Regions from separate parts of the Homo sapiens genome. Here regions 1 and 2 are each linked to region 3. A link means that fine-mapping ties the variant in region 3 to the expression of a gene that starts in the linked region. Tissue or cell type: whole blood. Region 3 holds a variant in brackets; each other region holds the start of a gene. Each region is shown on its reference strand, or each on the opposite one.

Evidence for each region.
Region 1: KCNS1 starts here. The variant in region 3 is fine-mapped to the expression of KCNS1 in whole blood (TOPMed, PIP above 0.99).
Region 2: SLPI starts here. The variant in region 3 is fine-mapped to the expression of SLPI in whole blood (TOPMed, PIP above 0.99).

The regions. Positions count from the first base shown.
Region 1 is chr20:45,098,771-45,103,991 of GRCh38, forward strand. It overlaps KCNS1 (potassium voltage-gated channel modifier subfamily S member 1), which reads right to left and starts at 2,357. Exons shown (of 4, transcript NM_001322799.2): 1 at 2,151-2,357; 2 at 391-469. The coding sequence starts at 466.
Region 2 is chr20:45,252,412-45,257,632 of GRCh38, forward strand. SLPI (secretory leukocyte peptidase inhibitor) reads right to left here and starts at 2,153. Exons shown (of 4, transcript NM_003064.4): 1 at 2,048-2,153; 2 at 1,164-1,322; 3 at 591-740; 4 at 1-8. The coding sequence starts at 2,132. The coding sequence ends at 4. All of the region lies in intron 2 of LOC105372630 (a long non-coding RNA gene), which reads left to right.
Region 3 is chr7:6,632,904-6,638,124 of GRCh38, forward strand. It overlaps ZNF316 (zinc finger protein 316), which reads left to right and starts at 4,415. Exons shown (of 9, transcript NM_001278559.2): 1 at 4,415-4,544; 2 at 4,943-5,106. RefSeq lists silencers at 4,095-4,514, 4,755-5,184. The variant T/A (reference allele first, on the strand shown) is at 2,324.

The DNA of each region.
Region 1 (5,221 bases), not on the chromosome of region 3:
CCATCCAACCAGCCAAGGGGTGTTGGAGGCTGTGTGTGAAGCATCTGGTATGCAGGAGGCGCTCAGTAGATGTCAGGTGCCCTCTGGACTCAGAGTCAGGCCTGGCTTTGACTATCCTTCATCCCCATCATTTGACTTTGGCCAAATCACTGACCCACCCCACCCCCATTTCATTTTTCTCCTTTGGAAAGTAAATGCTGAGATCTACCTGGAAGGATATGAAAGCGATGGAATCGCAGGATGTCCTGGCACCTAGTGGGTGCTCACATAGGATGTCTCCTTTTCCAGGACAAACTTGGATTTATTTACACCAAAGGTCTACTGTGGGATCTTGGGCCCGCCAGCCCTCTGAACCTGTTTCTTCTGCAAAATGAGGATAGTAACACTTACCTCCTAGGGGTGTTGGCAGCACCACTTTAGACCGGAGGTTCTCATAGTGTGTTCCCCGGACCAGCAGCATCAGCATCACCTGGGAATTTGTCAAAGATGCAAATTCTCAGCCTGCCATCGATTTACTGAATCGGGAACTCTAAGGGTGGGGTCTAGCACTTTGTGTTCTAACAAGATTGGAAAGTGATTCGGCTACATAGTCAAGTTTGAGAGCTCCTGCTTTAGATTATGTAAAGCATCTGTAGAGTCAGCCAGACCTGACCTTGAATCTTGACTCTCTTGTGTCACCTTAGGCAAGTAACATCACCTCTCTGAGCCTCTGTGAAATGGAAATAAAAATATTCACCTCAAAGTGTGGTTATGAAGATTAAATGACCTAGTGTCTTTCTTGGGCTTGGCTCACAGAAGGAATTTAATAAATTATTCACTGGTGTCACTATCTTCTGGAGTCAGGCAAACCTGGGTTTATCTCCACCCCTGACGCACCTGGGGCCTTGAGGAAGCTATTTGTCCTCCAGGTCTCAATTTCCTGCACAACGTAGATAATAGCACCTACCTCCAGGGATGACTGGAGGATTAAGGTAGATTATAGAAAGTGCTCAGCCTTAGTGGATACTCAGGAAGGATTTAGGTTCTTCCACTACCCACTGACTCCTGACTCTGCTGGAATTGGGGGCTAGTGACACCTCCTCACCACTGGCAATCTCATTTGCACTGTGGGTTCAGTAATGCCTAGACTAGGGATTAAGTGTGTGTAAAGCACCTGGGCTTGGCATTAAATGGATTTGGGGTTCCACCCTTAGCTCTATCACTTGTGTGACCTCAGGCCAGTCTCCTTCCCACTCTGGGCTTTAGCTCTTTTACCTCTAGAATGGGGATAATGTTGCTTTGGATGCATCATTATTGTGGTATATGTCAAAGCCCTGGGAAAACAGTAGATGCTCAATAAATGTTAATCCTGTGTACTTCCCTGTGGTCAGACCTGAGTCTACCACTTACTAGCTGCTGTCCTTGAGTGCATTCGTCGCCCTCTCTGGGCTTGTTTCCCTGTCTGTGGAACCGGGTAGCATCATACTTTCCAGGAGAGGCTCAGAGAATTAAATGATGCAAGGTGTTTATCGGCAGCATGGTCCCTGGCACATAATCAATGCACAATAAACGTGTGATGTAGCTCCGCTCCCACCTCCACTTGGATCTCCACCTGCATTTGGCATCAAAAAATGAAATTTCTAATCCAGTTCCATCACCCATTAGAAGCATAATATTGGGCAAATCCCTTCATCCATCAGGAGCTCACTTTCCTGCTCTATGAAACAGGATAATTAATTCAACAAACATTTTCTGACAAGAACCTGAATATCAGTAAGAAAGACCAAGTGACTTGTTCAAAATCACCCAGCTAGTCCATGGCACAGCTAAGGTTGGAGACCAGGTTTTTTTATTTCATTCTCTCTCCACACACTTATTTTGAGCACCTCCTATCTGCTAGTCACTCCTCTGGGCTCCATGCACACCTCACTCGGTTTAATCCCTACACCAACCCTGCCAGGGAGGTTTTCTAATCCCATTTTACAGATGAGCAAACTGTACCAGCCAGGGTCTCCAAAGCGCGGCCACCCCACACTGCTTCCTCCTTGGCGGGGGGTGGGGGGTCTCTTAGAGGGGGTAAGAGCACCAGGAGCCCCAGGCAGCCCCGCCTCCCACTCTGGCTGCCCGGGACCGTCCCGGAGCCACGTCCCTCCCCAAAGGAGGCCCCTTACCTGTGGTGGCACCTCCCGGGCGCCTCGCGTGTCTGTCCCAAAGCCACCGAGGCTGGGAGCCGCTGGCTATACTCGGTCTCGCCTCTGCCCCGCCGGCCCCGCCGAGCCTCCTGCTGCAGGCGGCCCCGCTGCCCTCTCCTTCCTTCTTCCTTGCCTAGTCCCCCGCGGCTGAAGGCCGCATCGATCGCTGCCGGAGGAGGGAGTGAGGCCGCTGGCGGCCGGAGGCGGCGGTTTCTATTCCTGACTCGGCTGGGGGGTGGTGGTGTCTGGAGACTGGGCCTACCTGCAGGGGCATCCTCCGGAGTTACGGGCCGGGAAGGAGGGGTCATTTAGGGCGTGAGGATTCCCCGTAGAGAGGGATTTCAGCAGAAGCTTCTCTGGCAAAGGAACAACAGTAATCATGATTTACTTAATTGAGTGTTTAGTATGTGCCAGGGTACTTCAGCTGCTGCAAGTGATTGATCTCAGTTATTCCTGGCACACACACTTGACAGGGCCAGGATCTTATGTCGCCCATTTTAGGGGTGAGCTCCAGTCATTTTCTCAGACCGTGGGCATCTGAGTTAGGGAGCTGTAGAAGGTGGCCTCATCTCCCTTGGAGCCCCAGGTTCTTCCTAGGTGAGTTGTGAAGCTTGAAACGATCATTTTACCCCTGAGGCGCAGTGTCCTTACCTGCCCACGGGTTCCTGATTCCCACCTGCCAAGTGGGTTGTGAGGGCAGAGAACATGTGCCAAAGAGCTTTGTAGAGGTTGTGAAATCCCCACACATGTACCTGTTGTGTGGCTGCTGTGTGCCTGGTTGGGGAGAGGCTCCTGGAGACTAGGGCCTGGATATGAGCCTTTGCACATATTGTTATTAATAATAATGATAATTACCAACGTTTATTGAGTACTTACCTTGGGTCAAGCACAGACCTCAATCTCACTCAAACTGCAAATTTATCTGTGGGGTAAGTGCTACTATTATTCCTATCTCACAGATAAGAACTGCTTTGAGAGGTGTGGTGACTTGCCGGAGGTCCCATGGCTGACTTCTGAGTCCTCTAGGCCAGCACAGTCCAACACCTATAATGTGAGCCACATATATAATTTTATTTTATTTTATTTTTGATTTTTTGAGATAGAGTCTCACTCACTCTGTTGCAGGCTGGAGTGCAGTGGCACAATCTTGGCTCACTGCAACCTCCGCCTCCTGGGTTCAAGCGATTCTCCTGCCTCAGCCTCCTGAGTAGCTGGGATTACAGGCATGCACCACCATGCCCAGCTAATTTTTGTATTTTTAGTACAGAAGGGGTTTCACCATGTTGGCCAGGCTGGTCTTGAACTCCTGGCCTCAAATGATCCACCTGCCTTGGCCTCACAAAATGCTGAGATTACAGGCATGAGCCACCGCGTCCGGCCCACATATGTCCTTTTACATTTCTGATTGCAACATTTTAAAGAAGTAAAAAACAGGCGAAATTACAGTTACCCCTTAAACAGTGGGGGTTAGGGAAACCACTCCTCCATGCCTAGAAAATTAGAATATAACTTTTGACTCCCCTGAAACTTAACTAGTAATAACTTACTGTTCGCCAGAAACCTTACCAATAATATAAACAGTCGATTGACACATAAATAGTATCTACATATATCTTAGGCATTCACGACATATCTAACTTATTCTTAAGGCTTTTGATATTTCTAGTCTACATGGTTCATCTGTAAGTTTTTTCAAATTGTCACAAATCTCCAAAAATTTTCCAATGTATTTATTGGAAAAAAATCTGCATGTAAGTGGACACTAGCAGTTCAAACTCGTGTTGTTTCAGGATCAACTGTATTTTTAGTGATATATTTTATTAAATCTAAAATATTATGATTTCAACATTGGAATCAGTAAAGAAATTATTGAGATATTTTACATTTTCTTTTTTTTGTACTAAGTCTCTAAAATCCAGTACTAATTTTTCTTATTGCTACATAACAAATTACCACAATTTAGTAGCTTAAAACAATACAAATTTATGATCTCATGGTTTCTGTAGGTCAGAAGTCTGGGCATGGCCTGGCTGGACCCTCAGGGTCTCACCAGGTTGAAGCCAAGGTGTTGGCCAGGGTTGAGGTTCTCATGTGAGCTTCAGAGTTTTCTTCCAAGCTCACAGATTGTTGGCAGAATTCATTTCCTTGTGGTTATAGGACTGAGGTCTCTCTTTTCCTGTTAGCTGTCTCCGAGGGATCAATCTCAGATTCTAGAAGCTGCCCCATAGGCAGTTCATAGCATGAATGCTTGCTTTCTTTCAGGGACATCAGAGTGCTGAATTCCTCTCCTGTAACCAGCCAGAGAAAAATCTCTGGCTTTAAAACTCTCACCTGATTAGTCCAGGCCCACCCAGGGCACTCTCCCTTCTGCCATATAATATACATTCACGGGTTCCACCTACACTTAAAGAGGAGGAGATTATACAGGGATGAGGATCATTGAGGAGGGGTCATCTGAATTCTGCCTCCCATATATAAATCTAGTGTACTAATTTATTTTATTTTTTATTTTTTGAGAGAGATTTTTTGAGATTTATCTATAGCATATCTCAGTTTGGACTAGTCACATTTTATGTGCTCGGTAGCCACACATGGCTCGTGGCTGCCATATTAGACAGCACAGCCCTAGGCTGTGCCACTTTAGTTTTTCCCTCGAAAGAAGAAGTTAGAGCAGGAAGCTGCTTAGTGAGCATCTTGCCCAATTCCCTCATTTGACCAACAGGGAAACTGAGGCAGATTTGCCGAGAAGCAGGTCTTCTGTTTCCTGGCCTAAGAGTTTGTCTGCAGCCTTTGCTACCCCTCAGGACTCAGGAGTTTTCCCTGGAGCTGCAGAGACGGTTTCCAAAATTGAGAGAAAAGACAGACCTATTTCCCAAAGGCAGAAGAGAATGAAACCAGGATCTGGTTTCATCCCCAGATTACACAGTGAGAGGTAAATGAAGTTTTGGTGGAATCTGTGAGCCACAAGAGTGGGAAGGTGGGCCTTATGGGTGGGAAGGACGGGGCATCCCTGTCCTTCATGTACCATGGATGGTCTGTCCCCCAAATTC
Region 2 (5,221 bases), not on the chromosome of region 3:
GAATCAAGCTGTGAGAGAAAATCAGATAAGAGCTTCAGCATAGAAACCAGCCAAATCATATCCACATCCTTCCTCCTGCCCAAGGATCCTTCTGAGATAGAGAAAATAGCAAGATAGCGCTATAGTTGAGAGAGACTTAGTGTCAGGAGACAAGTCTCATTTTCACCGTAAAACTCTAAACTCAAAGCATTGAACTAGATAATCCTCAAACTCCACTGATCCTTTGTGATTTCACCTCAGAAAACATGATGGAAACAACCTGAATAATAAATTCTTAGTGCACATAGTGCTTTGCAGAGCACTTTCAATCTCATTATGTACATTTTACCGATAAAGAAACTGAGACTCAGAAAGACACTTGCCCAGGACCCCCACCCAGAGACACTAGAATAGAATCAAAGCCACAGGCGATCCTATGGAAATCCTGGCCCTGAGACCTGGAGAACAGTTCTCTTGAAGGACAAGGGAGTCAGACAGAGGCTGTGCTTGGAGTAGGGTTCAGGAGTCCCCCTGCCCATATGCCTGGGCCTCCAGAGGGTTGAGGCTGAGAGGGCTGGAGGGAGCTCAGTGTGCCCTCATCCCCTGCTTACCTTTCACAGGGGAAACGCAGGATTTCCCACACATGCCCATGCAACACTTCAAGTCACGCTTGCACTGGCCATCCATCTCACAGAAATTGGGGGGGTTAAGCATCAAACATTGGCCATAAGTCACTGGGCACTTCCCAGGCTTCCTCCTTGCTGGGTGAGAGTGAGGCTACCGGTCAGAGGCCTTGTACTTTATACAACCCCTCCCATCCCCACTTTTTAGAGTGAGCCCCTGCTCCAGCTTCAGCAGGGGGGATCATCCCCTCCCCACCTCTATCACCACCACCTTCTCCCTAAGGCGGCCCCCAAACATAGCACCTGGCTCTCCTAGAACTTCAGGCCCCCCATTGATGCAGGTGGCCAGCCACCCAGTGCTGACTAGGTGGGAGGCTTCCAACTACCTGGCTATCTAAATGCCCGCTGCTTCACCAGCTGCTGGCTACCTTCCTGCTTAGGGCAGTGTGACTCACTGACGGATTGACAAGGAGGCCTGGCAGGACCCATCACCCAGTTCCATCCCTCTAATGCTGTGTCCCCAGGCTCACTCCTCTCTACCCAGTTCCCCGACCTGCTTACTTGGGTTTGGGGTGTCAACAGGATCCAGGCATTTGATGCCACAAGTGTCAGGACAACATCTCTTCTTCCCTGGACACTGCCAGTCACTCTGGCACTCAGGTTTCTTGTATCTAAGGCACTGGGCAGATTTCTTAGGAGGACAGACTCCAGCTTTGAAGGCTTTTGAAGAGAAAGTCAAGAGGTCAGGAGGAGGCTGGGTACTGAGGACCCATCATGCCTCCTGAACAAAGCACCACTTTTGAGGGGGAGAGACCCTTACCTCAGTAGCTGTCCACAAAGCCCAAAGGGTCATGCCTGCCTGATCTCCAGGTGTATTGATGGGCTTGATTAAATTAGACAAATGGACAGGGGACGTTTCACACCCAAGAAAAGGGCAGCAGGCTTCTAGTCAAGACCTCCCACCCAAGAGCAAAACAAGGCTACACAAAGGCAGAGAGGAAGGCTGGGAGTGATGGAGATGGAGAGAGGTAAACAAAGATAAATAGAACCAGTGTGAGAGAAGTTGAGAGCTAAAGCCCAAGGCAGAAGCACAGAGACAAAATAGCAGAAGCAAAGACACAAGGAAGCAGAGTCAGAAACTAATGATTTGAGAGTCGCAGACAGGTGAAGAAGAAGGCGGAGTATGAGAGAGAGAGAGAGAGAGAGAGAGAGAGAGAGAGAGTGGGACCTGGGCTGACAGCATGGCTGCATAGAGGAAGCATTTCCAGAAGCTCAAACTGTCACACAAACCTTGGAGCTCAGCCAGACATGTATTCCACCCTCAGGGAGGTCTCCCGAAACTAAGCTGAGGGATCAGAGCCTACAGAAGGGGACACACCCACACCACAAGGAGACCCCACCTCTGACCCTGCAGCCCAGATTAGACCAGAGTGACTCCAACTTACACTTTCCAGAGCCTTCCACAGCCCAAGGTGCCAGAGTTCCCAGGGCAAGCAGCACCAGGAAGGGGAAGAGGCCGCTGGACTTCATGGTGAAGGCAGGAGTGACTCTGATGGCCAATGCCAAACCTCACTATTTATTCTTTCACCAGTGGGTGTGGCCCCACCAGAATTCTTTCGGCCTCTCCCAGCTACTATTGCATAAGCAGGAAACGTAGCCAGAGACCAGAAATCCTGACACCAAGGAGATTGTTTATCTTTCCTATGCCAGGTAAGGCTATGAGGCCAACACAGCAACTATCAGAAAAGAAAGGGAAGAGATTGGCCTGGGAAGTTGGTTGATTAAAGAGGCCATCTCAGTGTCCATCTGAGCCCTAAACATCACAAGATCCCAGGCCATTAGCCTTATAGGTGGAGAGAGGGAAGAAGTGGTCAATTGCAAAGGTGCTACCCGGACCTGGAACTAAAACCAGACACAGACTCCCTGCTGAGACTTTGTGCAATACATTCTATTCTCACATTGCTAATTCTGATTCTCACATTACTGGACTCTCAGGCATTGTGAAACTCTGCTGATTACTCAATGCAGTTTCTTTCTCAAAAGTTCAGCTCGTTCAACCAACTGATACTTAGTTCCCTGAAATATTTACACCGTTATATCCCCAGTGCCTGTTCTGTGCCTGACACAGGAAAAGCACTCACAAATGAAAGCTGAAGAAGAGCTCCGCTCTCCACAAATCTCTCTGGAGCTCAGTTGTCTCAGCTGTGAAATGAAATGATACTAACAAGTCAGCCCTTCTCAGAGGGTTATGAAATTAAGGGCATGAAGGGACTCTGAATGAAAAGAACAAATGAATAGTATCCCTTCCCACTAAAGAGAATTGAAATGAATCTGAGATAAAGGGGGAAAGCAGCTCATCAGTCACTGTAATCTACATTTAGCTGTGAGATAATTTGAGATCTTAGAGGATTGCTTCCTAAAATTCCCCAAAATCCCTTACAGATCTCACATGACAGCAAAAAATTAAACCCATTCTATTTGCTACCCAGTCTGCATAGGTTGCTTCTAATTATAAAGAGAGCGACCATTATCTCTAAAATTCAGCCCATAGCTGAGTGTAGGGTCGCACACTTGCTGTCTCAGCTGCCCAGGAGGCTGAGGTGTATGGATTCCTTGAGAGTAGGAGTTTGAGACCAGCCCTGGCCACATATTGAGACCCCATCTCTACAAAAAAATGTAAAAAATTAGCCAGGCATGATGACGTACGTATGCCTGTAGTCCCAGCTACTTGGGAGGCTGAGCCAGGAGGATCGCTTTAGCCCAGGAGTTTGAGGCTGCAGTGAGCCATGATTGTGCCACTGCATTCCAGCTTGGGGGACAGAGCGATACCCTGTCTTAAAAAAATAAAATAAAATAAAATTCAACCAAAGCTCATCTAGCTACAAACTCCAAGCTCTTGACTCATTATCTTCATGCTTGGAATTCTCCCATTCATTCCTAAGGTGAAGGTTTGTGGAACTTTCCACAGACATGAAAGACCCACTCATTATCAAGTAGCGATGGCCCCACATGAAGTATTTAAGTATTCCACAACCAAACAGGCAACTGGCAGCAGATCCCTTTATACAAAAGTCACTCCATGGTTTGAATTTTGGTGGATCAGAAGACTTGGACATAATCAATCATCAGTCAAATTTTGGTGGAAAAAGAAAAGGAAGAAAATTAATATGCACAAGGTAACTACTATGAGCCAGGTGCATTCACTCTTAGTTGGAGTACTTAGTAGGGTAGGTAAGAGAGAAATGGAGGCTATGATTTCCACCAATGGGTAATGACACTCTCAGGTCAAGATTTTTGTTCTCACTTCCACCACCCAGGGGATAATTTGATTTCTCTCACAGAGTTCCTGTTCTCTCTCTCTCTCTCTCTCTCTGTTTGTTCCTATTTTCCTCAGTGCCACACTCAAGAAATTATCTGGAGTTTTCTAAATATTTATTTCTTAAAGAATGAAAAGGGGCTGGGCACGGTGGCTTATGCCTGTAATCCTAGCACTTTGGGAAACCAAGGTGGGCGGATCACTTGAGGTCAGGAGTTCAAGAGCAGCCTGGCCAACATGGTGAAACCCTATCTCCACTAAAAATACAAAAATTAGCCAGGCAGTGTGGCACACACCTGTAATCCCAGCTACTCAGGAGGCTGAGGCAGGAGAATCACTTGAACCCTGGAGGTAGAGGTTGCAGTGAGCTGAGATTGTACCATTGCATTCTAGCCTAGGCAACAAACTGAGACTCCGTCTCAAAAAAAAAAAAAATTAAAAGGAAAATGCTACAGCTTAAGTTTTTTTTAAATCTGTGATTGACTGATTGCTCAATCTGTGATTGACTGATTAGAGCCAGCTCCTTTCTCATCAGAAAAGAGCCCTGTGCCCAATTAGCAATGTCTTCCATGGGTGTCATAAGAAGATAATAGTATATAATCATTATTATCTTTGACATAATTGGTTCTAAATGTTTACATCATAGAATGTTAAGACTAAAAAGAGGACTTCAAGGGTTTTCTAGATCAGCAAACTACAGTCCTTGGACCAAATCCACCTAGTTACCTGTTTTCATAAAGTTTTATTGGCACATAGCCACACATCCATTAATTTATGTATTGTCTAAGGCTATCTTTCCACTACAATGGCAACAGGGACCTAAAATATTTACTGCACAGCCTAAAATACTTATCGTCTGGTCCTTTACAGAAAATGCTAACCCCTAGACCAAACCCACAGCTTGCATAAAAGAGACTGAATCCCTTAGAAGAAGATCCAGGCCCAAAGCTGCATAGCGGATTAACGACACACACAAGATTGAGCTTTTCTAAAACAGGTTACTCACATGCTGATCCCCAGAACCTGTCTGGTGGAGGACACTTCCACTCCTAACCAAATCTTAACCTGAGACTGACTCATTCAATCTATCTCAAGGCTGGGAGTGGTGGCTCACTCCTGTGATCCCAGAACTTTGGGAGACTGAGGTGGGTGGATCACTTGAGGTCAGGAGTTTGAGACCAGCCTGGCCAACATGGTGAAATCCCATCTCTACTAAAAATACAAAAATCAGCCGGGCATGGTGGTGTGTGCCTGTAATACTCAGGAGGCTGAAGCAGGAGAATCACTTCAACCTGGGAGGCAG
Region 3 (5,221 bases):
CTTGAAATCCTGACCTCAGATGATCCGCCCACCTTGGCCTCCCCAAGTGCTGGGATTACAGGTGTGAGCCACTGTGCCTGGCCCCTAATTTTTGTATTTTTAGTAGCAACAGGGTTTCACCATGTTAGCTAGGCTGGACTTGAACTCCTGACCTTAGGTGATCCACCTGCCTCGGCCTCCCAAAGTGCTGGGATTACAGGTGTGAGCCACTGCACCCAGCTATTTTATTTTATTTTATTATTATTTTTTTGAGACAGAATTTTGCTGTGTCGCCCAGGCTGGAGTGCAATGGCACAATCTCGGCTCACTGCAAGCTCCGCCTCCCAGGTTCACGCCATTCTCCTGCCTCAGCCTCCCCAGTAGCTGGGACTCCAGGTGCCCACCACCATGCCCGGCTAATTTTTTGTATTTTCAGTACAGACGGGTTTTCACCGTGTTAGCCAGGATGGTCTCGATCTCCTGATCTCGTGATCCATCTGCCTCAGCCTCCCAAAGTGCTGGGATTACAGGCATGAGCCACCGTGCCTGGCCTATTTTATTTTATTTTTGAGACAGAGTTTTCCTCTGTCACCCAGGCTGGAGTGCAGTGGTGTGAACATAGTTCATTGCAGCCTCAACCTCTTGGGCTCAAGCAATCCTCTCACCACAGCCTCCTGAGTAGCTGGGACTACAGGCATGCACCACCACACCCAACTAATTTTTAAATTTTTAGTAGAGTCAAGGTTTCACTATGTTGCCCAGGCTGGTCTTGAACTCCTGGGCTCAAGCTATCTTCCTGCTTCGGCCTCCCAAAGTGCTGGGATTCCAGGCGTGAGCCACTGCACCCAGCTAATTTTTAAAAATGTTGTGTAGCGACAGGGTCTTGCTATGTTGCCCAGGCTGCTCTCAAACTCCTGGCCTTAAGCTTTCCTCCTGCCTCAGCCTTCCAAAGTGCTGGGACTACAGGCATGGGCCAATCCTGGCCTGCTTTTTAATTACTTCCTTCTTCAAATGAGTCTAGGGAAATCTATCAAGACTGAGTTCAGTAGTGAGTGACAAGAAGGTCCAACTAAACTACAGTTTATGACAACCAATTGTCCCCAGGTCAGAGGCATCCTCAGGTGGCCCAGGCCTGGTCTAGCATCTCCCTAAGGCCAAGGACACATAAGTCCCACCAGCTTCCTTCGTCTCCTCTCCGTCTCCTCAGCCCCTCAGCAGTGCTGTTGGAGCAAGAAGCAAAACTCACTCGTAGGGCCCGGTGAGGTGGCTCACGCCCTTTCCTTTCCTAAAAAGGAAAGGGAAAGGAAGAAAAGGGAAGGAAGAAAGGAAGGAAGGGAAAGAAAGAAGGAAAGAAAGGAAAGGAAAAGGAAAAGGAAAAGGAAAATTATCTGTGGACGAGGGAGAGGAAGAAATTGAGTCTTGGATTAGGTATCAGGTGAGGACAGGCCAAGAGGAGATCTGAGGAGATGCTGGGGTGATTCGGGGTCCCTGCCTGACAGGGTGGAGGGATCTAAGGCCGGGATGGAGCTGCTGACTCTATTATACACACTCCTCTTCTGGGGTCCCTTGCTGTCCACATTACAGGTGGTTTTGGGCAACGGGCAGCACTGGGAAGTGACAGGGTGCAGGAGGGCAGGGTTGGGGTACTCTCTCCTTGCCACACTGTCCCTCTATAATCACAGTGCCCACAGTGTCCCCATCTTTATATCTCCACCTCCCTCCAGGCTTGACAACATCCTGCCCTTTCCTGCTCCTGCAGGGCTAAGGGTGGCAAAGGCCTGGTGCCTTCACATTCCAGCTGCTTCCCTTTACCTGGTGTATTAGTCCATTTTCATGCTGCTGTAAAGAACTGCCCAAGACCGGGAAACTTATAAAAGGAAAGAGGTTTAACTCACAGTGGCTCTTGCCTGTAATCCCAGCACTTTGGGAGGCCGAGGCGGGCGGATCACGAGGTCAGGAGTTCGAGACCAGCCTGACCAACACGGTGAAACCCCATCTCAACTAAAAATACAAAAATTAGCCAGGCGTGGTAGTGCACACCTGTAATCCCAGCTACTTGGGAGGCTGAGGCAGGAGAATCACTTGAACCTGGGAGGTTGACGTTGCAGTGAGCAGAGATTGTGCCACTGCACTCCAGCTTGGGCAACAGAGTGCGAGACTCCATCTCAAGAAAAAAACAAAAACAAAACAAACCACCACCACCACCACCAACCACCACCAACCACCACCACCACCAAAAACTGACTCACAGTTCCGCATGACTGGGGAGGCCTCAGGAAATTTACAATCATGGTGGAAGGGGAAGCAAACACTTCCTTCTTCACATGATGGCAGGAAGGAGAAG[T/A]GTGGAGCAAAGGGGAAAAGCCCCTTACAAAACCATCAGATCTCATGAGAACTCACTAACATGAGAACAGCATGAGGCGAACTGCCCCCATGATTTAATTACCTCCCACCGGGTCCCTTCCACAACATGTGGGGATCATGAGAACTACAATTCAAGACGAGATTTCAGTGGGGACACAGCCAAACCACATCACCTGGTGACACTGCTTTTGGTCAATTGTTAATTGTCCTACAGTCAGAGCCCTTCCTGGGAGTGCCTGGGGGCAATTGCACCTTCCTACTGAACCTGACGGATCAGGTAGGGTGGGGAAGGGTCTAATCTAGGGATTAGGGGTTCTAAAAGATACCCACAGGAGAGTCAGGCAGTGTCATTCAGATGTGGGCCTGGAGGAAAGGGACAGGGAGTGGTGGGCACTGAGGACCATGGCCACGCTCAGTCCCACCCACAGAAGCTGGTTACTTCTCAGGCCCTACTGGCTGGTGCCCTGCAAACCAGGGGCCTTGTGTTGCCAGAACTTCTGATTTTTCAGATTTTATTTATTATTAGAGACAGGGTTTCAATCTGTTGCCCAGGCTGGAGTGGAGTGGTGCTATCATAGCTCACTGCAGCCTCAACCTCCTGGGCTCAAGCAATCCTCCCACCTTGTTTTCCCAAAGTGCTGGGATTACAGGTGTGACCCGCCTCGGCCCCCCAGAGTGCTTAATTTATAGGTGTGAGACCCCGCATTAGAACCTGATTTTTCAATTTTATTTTTTAAACAAGAATGGGACTCCTTATTTTAAAATGTTATTAACTTTAAGACATTTTAAGACACCAAGAGCCAAGCGACATCACTGTGAGGGTCTGATTCAAGGGGTTGGGGCTGCACCCCTCTGTGGGACTAAGGTTTGAGTCCTCCTCTATCTTATTATTATTTTGAGACAGAGTCTCACCTTGTCGCCCAGGCTGGCGTGCAGTGGTGTGATCTCGGCTCACTGCACCCTCTGCCTCCCGGCTTCAAACGATTCTCCTGCCTCAGCCTCCCAAGCAGCTGGGACTACAGGGGTGCGCTACCACGGCCGGCTAATTTTTGTATTTTTAGTAGAGATGGGGTTTCACCCACCATGTTAGCCAAGCTAGTCTCGAACTCCTGACCTCGTGATCCGCCCGCCAAGACCTCCCAAAGTGCTAGGATTACAGACACCGTGCCTGGCCGAGTCCTCCTCTATCTCTTGCCCAGTCAGGCCTGGGGTCCCCACAGAAAAGCACCAAGAACAGTGGTGCAGGCGGGCTGGGAGCTGGGGAAGGGGCCCAGGCCACACCATTCCAGGCGGAAGACAGACCCTGGACTCCACCAATGCCAGAGCTCATCCTGACACCCCAGCTGCACCTCTTGGGAGCAGGTGCAGACAGGCTTGTGGGTGGGGGTCTGGGGGTGGCCGCTGAGCTCACCGACCCCTCCCTGGGTTCCTGGGGTCGCCTGTCACTTCTGCCCCCACACTGGCCATGCCCTCTGCCTGGACATCGCTTCCCTGCCCGTGACCCCATGTCCCTCCAAGTGCGGGCTCCACAACCCCAGTCTCCTCCTGCACTCAACCGCCACAGTCCACCCATAAGACGTTCACCCCGCCCGTCCCTCCTCCCTCCCCACCCACAAGACGTTCACCCCGCGCGGGCCCGGGGATCTGGTGGAGGCGTGGACACCTGGCCCCCTCCCCACCACAGGGGTCGCCTCCTCCCTCCACCATCCTGGGGTCCCGGGCAGGCTCCGTGGACTGGCGGAGGGGGCCCAGCGCGGGGCCTGGTCCTCAGCGGGCGCCCCGATGAACGAGGCCGGGCTGGGGTTCGGGGAAGGCGGTGGTCGCAGCGGCGGGACCTCGGGGTCACCTCCGAGACCTGGCCAGGGTGTCCAGGAGCGGGGCGAGGTTGTGGGCGCCCCACGAGTGTCGAGGGCGCTCCCGTCCCCTCCCCGCATGCCCCGTCCTCGCCCCGGCCCGAGGCCCAGCTGGGCAAACCCCCGCAACCCGCGCTTCCCCGCTCCGCGCCGCTGCCCCCGCGTGACCGGAAGTTCCTCCCCCCGCGGGCGCGGGCGGGGCGGGGCCGGCCGGCGGTACTTCCGGTGCCCACGCGCCGCCGTCGCGCAGCTCCCGGGCCGTCACTTTGTGTAGCGCGGGGTCCGCCGCCGGCCCGCAGGCCCCGGCCCCGGTGTCCGGCCCGTGGCTCGGCCAGCCCGGCCCGCGCGGTGAGTGGGTCTCGCGGGGCCGGTGGGCGGCGGCGCGGGCGGCAGGTGCGGGCGGGCCGGGCTTGCGCTCGGGGGCGGCGGCGGCGGCGGGGCCGGGCTGGCCCTCGACGCCCGGCGCGGGGAGGCCGCGGGGAGGCGGCGGGGCCGGGGCCTGCAGAGTCGGAGCGGAACGCGGGTAGGGACTTCCGCGGCAGCGCCCCCGCCTCCCGGACCCCCGTCCGGGCCTGCGCGTTGCCGACCCCCGGGGCCGGTCCGGGCAGGAGGCGGAGGGGGCAGGCCCGGGAGGCCACGCGTGACACCTCGGGGTGCCCGCCCACGCCTTCTCGGCCGCAGCGGCAGGGGCTGGGCCGCGGCCGCCCCCAGGACACACCCATCCAGGAGGGGCTGTCATCGTCTAGGTCTCTGCAGGAGGAGGCGGCTCCGGACGCCCCCTGGGGGGCGGGAGGCGCTCGGCCCGTCGCCCCAGGAGCCCGCTTTGTGACCTTGGGGGCCTTATCCGGGCTTTCCCTCATCTGCAGAAGGAGCCCCGGTGGGCTGCTCGGCTGTCTTCTGCTGCCGGCAGGTAGGTAGGGACACCCATCCCTGGGATTGGATGGGGTCTGGGCTGTCCCGCGTGGCAGCAGAGGTAGGAAAGGGGCTGGGCTTTGGTCGAGGACCCGATGGGCAAGAGGAAGTGC